2 linked regions of the Homo sapiens genome follow. The protein of the gene in region 2 purifies or fractionates together with the protein of the main gene of each other region. This does not show direct contact. Each region holds a gene or a part of one and is shown on either strand. Other genes may lie near its edges.

Region 1 (3,024 bases), on a different chromosome or scaffold from region 2:
CACCGCGCCCGGCCCATTGCCTACTTTTTAATGGGGTTGTTTTTTCTTGTAAATTTAGTTCCTTATAGATGCTAGATATTAGACCTTTGTCAGATGCATAGTTTGCAAATATTTTGATCAGTGATGTTGAGCTTTTATTCATATGCTTGTTGGAAGCATGTATATATTCTTTTGAGAAGTGTCTGTTCATGCCCATTGCCCACTTTTTAATGGGGTTGTTTTTTTCTTGTAAATTTGTTTAAGTTCCTTATAGATGCTAGATATTAGACCTTTGTCAGATGCATAGTTTGCAAATATTTTCTCCCATTCTGAAGGTTGTCTTCCAGGGTTTTTGTAGTTTTGGGTTTTATATTTAAGTCTTTAATCCACTAGATGGATGTTATAAGAATCCATTTAAGGTGATAGGTGAGAGTGCTACAAAGGGCTTTGCAAATGTCATGGGGAATCAACAAACCCACCCCATTGTGAATTACCTAAGTAGACACTTTTACAAGATAGCATTATTTTTTAATGCAGATGATCCAAGTTTTATTAAAGTTTACATACTTAAGCATAAATAAATTAACAGATTTGTAGCACCAATAATGGTGGCATGATGGTACACCTGGAGGTAACATTATCAAGAGCTTTTGTTGAAACCTTTCATTTTCAATCAGGTGCTGATTTTTTTCCACCCAAGTCTTCAATTATTACTGTTCTAACACTGCAAAAACCATTCAAGCATAAAAAAGCATGCAAGAGGCAGTAAAATAAGCCCAAATAATTGAGAATTGAACAAGAAAACAAAATAATTTACTCTTAAAATGACAAAAGTAAAATTAAGACAACCTCTAAACCAGGGGTCTGGTGAACTTGGATGGGAAAAATTTTAAATCTTTCTTTTCACCAACTTCTAACTGAAATATAACATTTCCTTCAATTACGAATATAGGAAACAGTCCACAGTAGGATCAGAGTACCTGTGACTTTGTCACCAATAGAAATGAGACATTTAGATATATTACAGTTGTTAGATATTTCAAGATATGAATTTGAATTATAGTAATTTTAGAACCACCATGCAGTCTTATTTTGTGTTAACAGAATATGTATGTTACTGGATCATAAAACTTTGAAAATATCAACTTTATTTTAACATGATCAGTTTCCTTTGCGATCCTTTATATTTAGTTTTATGCTTTGAAAACATTACTATGAGAGGGGGTCCACAGGCTTCACTGGATCACTAAAAAGCTCAATGGCACAAAAAAGTTTGAAACAAATAAGTCATTAATATCACAGGAAGAGAGTACTTAATAGTGAAATAGGGTGGGTGCAGTGGCTCATGCCTGCAATCCAAACACTTTGGGAGGCTGAGGCGGGCAGATTACCTGAGGCCAGGAGTTCGAGACCAGCCTGGGCAACATGGCAAAACCCCATCTTTACTAGAAATACAAAAATTAGCCAAGCATGGTGGCACGCGCCTGTAGTACCAGCTACTTGGGAGGCTGAGGCACGAGAATCGCTTGAACCTGGGAGCTGTGGAGGTTGCAGTGAGTCAAGATTGTACCAGTGCACTCCAGCCTGAGTAACAGTGTGAGACTCTGTCTCAAAAAAAAAAAAAGTGAAATATATGAAGCTGACTTCAACAGTAACAGATTTCAGAAAAGGTCTAAAAACTGTGCTCCAGAATTTAATTACCACAAGGAGTTAGAAAATCCACACTACCATCCAGCTTCCTAAACAGAAGACTAAATTTCCCGCTATCCCTGTCTTTACCACTGTACTCACCCCCACCCTAGACTCTAGTGTAGAACAAGTAGTCAAGGAAAGAGAGATTAAAATGGTCACTCATGCAGATGATACCCAAATGCAAACATGACACGCTTAGCAACTGGAAACCTGGTGGGAGGGGCGCAAGAGCACGCTGGCTTCCTAGAGACTGGTTGGCAAACGTAGAATTAAGAGGATGGTGATAAGAAACCAGGGATCCATGGGGCAGCCTTCCCAGTTTGCTCAAACATTCTGTTGCCAGGCTGTGACCAGGACTCAGAGACCAGTCCTAGGTTTACCATCCAGACAACAATGTGGGGGAGCAGAGAGAGCGTTATAGAGAAAAGTTTAAAAATATAAGTAAAATGAAATAGTATTCTTGGGTATTAAAAAAAGAACTCTGAGGCTAAGATTATTGTTGGCCTCTGGACTTGCCCTTTCTGGTCTATCTTCCACATTGCTGTCCGAGTGAATCATTCCAACACTGTATGGCACTCTCTTGCTTAAAATCTTTCAGTGGCTCTCTACTGTGCTCAGGATCAAGTGCAGGTTTAAAGTGCAGGTTTATTACCTGGTCTGCCTAGCCCCATCTTTTGTTATGCTTTTGTATGCTCTATCTCGGCCTACTCAACAATCTGCAGTGCCTCACCCTCTGGCCTCTAGGTCTTTGAGCACAGTGTCCCCACTGTCTGGTACACTGCTCTCTATATTGTGTTTGGCGTTCCCTTTTTCTCCAGGTTTAAGCTTGGCTATCACTTTCTCCCAGAAGTCCTCCTGTGTGCTCCCATAATGCATACAGCTCCTCCTATGTGCTCTGTGCTTGGTCATAGCACTTATCACATTAATAATAGTCTCCTTCAGAGTCTCAGCAATTGGGGTCAGGCACTGGGTCTTACTGTGGTCCTAGCATTTAGCATAGGGCCTGCCACTCAGGATCTCAGGTGGTTGTTGAATGGTTAAATTGTGGATCTATAAAGGCAGAACTGAGCAAAATTACTGCCTTGGTGTGGTGGTGACAGTAACTGGAAATCTCTGTCAATGATTCCCTACATGTGGACTTGATATTTGAGTCCACAAAAATTATAATGGAACTACTGTATATCTTTAAAAAACTTGTAACAAAAATGGCTCATTTATCTAAGACAAATCCAGACAGACTAATAACAAAGGGTAAATTGTTTGCCTTTGGCTGGAAGATAAGCTCAGACAGTGCAGGGTTTTCTGCTGATCAGCAGCTCAGATTGCCTCATGATGCACCACAGGGATTTCTGA
Region 2 (4,039 bases):
TTCACAGACCCTTTGAAAGAAGTGGCAGGCTACAGCCAACACTGTGAGACAGATGAAAAACTGTAAGTGCCCAGAGTGTGAGAAGGGGAGAAACTGCCTCCAGAATACTCTTCCCCACCAGGGAATCTGAGAATTCAGGCCATGGGTAAGGCCTTAACCCTACCCAGGCCCAAAGCTGATTTAGGGAGAGGTGAGAAATAAAGTAGAAGCGGCAGTGACAAGTGTCACAAAGGTATTACCAGTCTCCAGCATGGACTGAGGGAAGCCATTTCTTATTTTATCTCACAGGGGACATCAGCAAAGTCAGCCAACTTGAACTTGGGGAGTTCAGCCACATGTCACAGATCGAAAGAAGCTCCTAACTGAATTTCATGATATTAATATTATCTCAAGTGGGAATGAGCCCCCTTGGCCAGAACCCCGGGGGAAAGCAGGAAGTGTGCTGCAGACAAATGCAGAAGGCTGGCACCTGGCCTTGAAGGTGGATGGGGAGGGGAATAGCTTGAAAGCCAAAGTTGCTATCTCCACAGGAGATGTTCAAAGAAGAACTGGTACCAATCCTACTGAAACTATTCAAAAATACAGAGAAAGAGGGAATCCTGCCTAAATTATTCTATGAAGCCAGTATCACCAAATACCAATACCAGGAAAGGACATAACACACACACACACACACACACACACACACACACACACACACAAAAGAAAACTATAGACCAATCTCCCTGATGAATACAGATGTAAAAATCCTCAAGAAAATACTAGCTAACCAAATCCATCAGCACATCAAAAATATATCATGATCAAGTGGGTTTCATCCCATAGGTGCAGGGATGCTATAATATATACAAGCCAATAAATATGATATACCACACAAAGAGAATTAAAAACCAAAACCATAGGATCATTTCAATAGATGCAAAAAAGCAATTAATAAAATCCAACATCCATTTATGATAAAAACCCTCAACAAACTAGGCATAAAATGCATATATAACAAATCCATAGCCAACATCATACTGAATGGAGAAAAATTGAAAGCATTCCCCTGAAAACTGGAATAAGACAAGGATGCCCAATTTTTACCACTTCTATTAAACATAGTACTGGAAGTCCTAGCCAGAGTAATCAGGCAAGGTAAAAAAAATAAAGGGAATCCAAATTGGAAAAGGATAAGCCAAAGTATTGCTGTTTGCCAGTAATATGATCATATACCTACAAAACCCCAAAGCCTCATCCAAAAAGCTCCTCCGACAAACAAATTCAGTAAAGTCTCAGGTTACAAAATCCGTTTACAGAAATTAGTAGCACTGCTATTCACCAACAACAACCATGTTGAGAGTCAAATTAAGAATTCCATTTACAACAGCTGCAAATAAAATCCCTAAGAATATGCTTAACCAAAGAGATGAAAGATCTCTACAAAAAAATACAAAACACTACTAAAAAGAAATGATACATAAACAAATGGAAACACATCCCATGCTTATGGATAGAAAGAATCAATAGTATAAAAATGGCCATATTCCAAATTCATATGGAACCACAAAAGGGCCTCAATAGCCAAGGCAATACTAAGCAAAAAGAAGAAATCTGGAGGTATTTCATTACCAGACTTCAAATTATACTACATGACTATAGTTATACAAACAGCATGGTACTGGTATAAAAAATAGGCACTTAGATCAATGAAACAGAATAGAGAACACAGAAATTAGGGCAAATACTAATCTTTGTTCAACAAAGCAAACAATAATATAAATTAGGGAAAATAACCCTATTCAATAAATGGTGCTGGGACAACTGTTAAGCCACATGTATAAGAATAAAACTGGAAGCCATCTCTCACCTTATACAAAAACCAACACAAGATGGATCAAAGACTTAAGTCTAAGACCTGAAACCATAAAAATTTTAGAAGATAACATTGGAAAACTCTTCTTAACATTGGCCTGTACATTGGCCTCAGCCAAGAATTTGTCTCTAAGACCCCAAAATGCAAATGCACAAAAAGCAAAAATAAATGGGACCTAATTAAACTAAAAAGATTCTGCACAGCAAAAGAAATAATCATGCGAGTAAACAGACAACCTACAGAATGGAAGAAAGTTTTTGCAAACTATGCATCCAGCAAAGGACTGATTATCCAGAATCTACAAGGAACTCAAGTCACCAAGATAAAAACAAATAACCCTGTTGAAAAGTGGGCAAATAACATGAATAGACATTTCTCAAAAGAAGTATACAAACAGCCAACGAACATATGAAAAAATGCTCAACATAACTAATAATCAGGGAAGTACAAATTAAAATCACAATGAGATATCACCTTCTGCAAGAATGGTTATAATTAAAAAGCTGAAAAGACAGTAGAAGTTGGCATGAATGTAGTAAAAAGAGAACACTTTTACACGGCTGGTAGGAATGTAAATGAGTGTAATCTTTATGGAAAACAGTATGGAGATTCCTTAAAGAACTTAAAGTAGATCTACCATTTGATTCAGCAATCCTAATACTGGTATCTACCAAAAAGAAAAGAAGTCATTATATATAAAAAACACATACCCACACATGTTTACAGCAGTATGATTCACAATTGTAGAAATATGAAACCAATCCAAGTGCCCATCAACCAATGCATGAATAATGAAAATGTGGTATATATATATATACATCATGGAATAGTGTATATATAAAAAGGAATGAAATAATATATTTTGCAGGAACTTGGAGCTTGAGGCCATTATTCTAAGTAAAGTAATTCAGGAATGGAAAACCAAACACTGTACATTCTCACTTATAAGTGGGAACTAAGCTACGAGGATGTATAGATATACAGATTATATAATGAACTTTCAAGACTCAGTGTGGGTTAGGTTGGGAGTGAGGTGAGGGATAAAAGCCTACATAGTGAGTACGATGTCCAGTGATCGCCTGACAGCTTCACTTAAATCTCAGAATCACCAGTGTAGAATTGATTCATGTAACCAAAATCCACTTGTACCCCAAAACCTGTTGAAATTAAAATATGAATTCATAAAATAATTATACTGATCTGAGCTGAGGCTCAAAACCTAAAGTAACTTTCAAGTAGTAAATTTGAACACAACAATGATGAGAAAGGCATCATCATTCTCTGCCTTTTATTTTAGCTTTAATACCTGAATATGTGTGAATAAATTGGAACTAATAAGCACAATTCACCCACAACTACTGAACCAGTTACAGAATTGTCATCTCCACACAATCCCATTAAACACATGTGCATACATGCTCATCATAGGCACAGTACCTTTGAAGTGTAGAATATGTCTTCTCTCTTCACACTGCCATCTGCAATCTTGCTTCGGATGGCCAGTCCAACCTGCTCCTCATTATTGTATAAATAAGCAGAATCAATATGGCGGAAGCCAGCTTCTATTGCTAATTTGGTGACCTCTACAGCTCTGTTCCTCGGAACCTGAAGGAGCAACGAAAGGTAGTATTTGGTGATCAATGTGCTTGAGAGGTAGTGAAACAGGAAAAGTTCCCTTGTCCTCACAGGGTGTGCAGTGGGGGTGTGGCTCGCTTCTTCAGGCCCCCGCTGCTCAGACCTCTAGGGGAGCATACAGATGGGGGCAGGTTGTGGGACTATGACCCGTTGACAGTGTCTAGGTGTGGATGTTTACAGCTCCTGAAGCCCCAGTGGGCATGTGTTACAGGGTGCTCTTTTAGTTTTGTTCTTTAAGTTTTGCCATCTACAGGCTTGTGTTAACCAGCTCAATTAGACCCTCTACCTTATGGCAAGGACAGAGGGCTTTCTGTATCCTGAGTTCTTGCTTTGGTTTACCGGAAGGATCGGATCACACCTGGGCTTGGTGAATGAGTGCAGGGTTTCATTGAGTGGAGGTAGCTTGGGGGGAAGTCAGAAGGGGATGGAGTAGGAACGTTTTCCCCTAGAGTCCGGCTGCTCAGCAGCCTGGACTGTCTTCTGACTGCCCCAGCCAAACTCAGCGTCATTCTGCTTCTGCCAGTAGGTGGCCCGCTGGCGTACTGGTGC

The links.
Region 1: the proteins of AKR1C4 (region 2) and TMEM59 purify together in Homo sapiens (co-immunoprecipitation; one large-scale study listed by IntAct). This does not show direct contact.

The regions. Positions count from the first base shown.
Region 1 is NC_000001.11:54,026,181-54,029,204, forward strand, and holds the end of TMEM59 (transmembrane protein 59 isoform 2 precursor), read right to left. Parts: 3' UTR 501-3,024; downstream 1-500.
Region 2 is NC_000010.11:5,199,602-5,203,640, reverse strand, and holds part of AKR1C4 (aldo-keto reductase family 1 member C4), read right to left. Parts: intron 3,461-4,039; coding exon 3,293-3,460; intron 1-3,292. UniProt on the Homo sapiens protein: Cytosolic aldo-keto reductase that catalyzes the NADH and NADPH-dependent reduction of ketosteroids to hydroxysteroids. Liver specific enzyme that acts as an NAD(P)(H)-dependent 3-, 17- and 20-ketosteroid reductase on the steroid nucleus and side chain.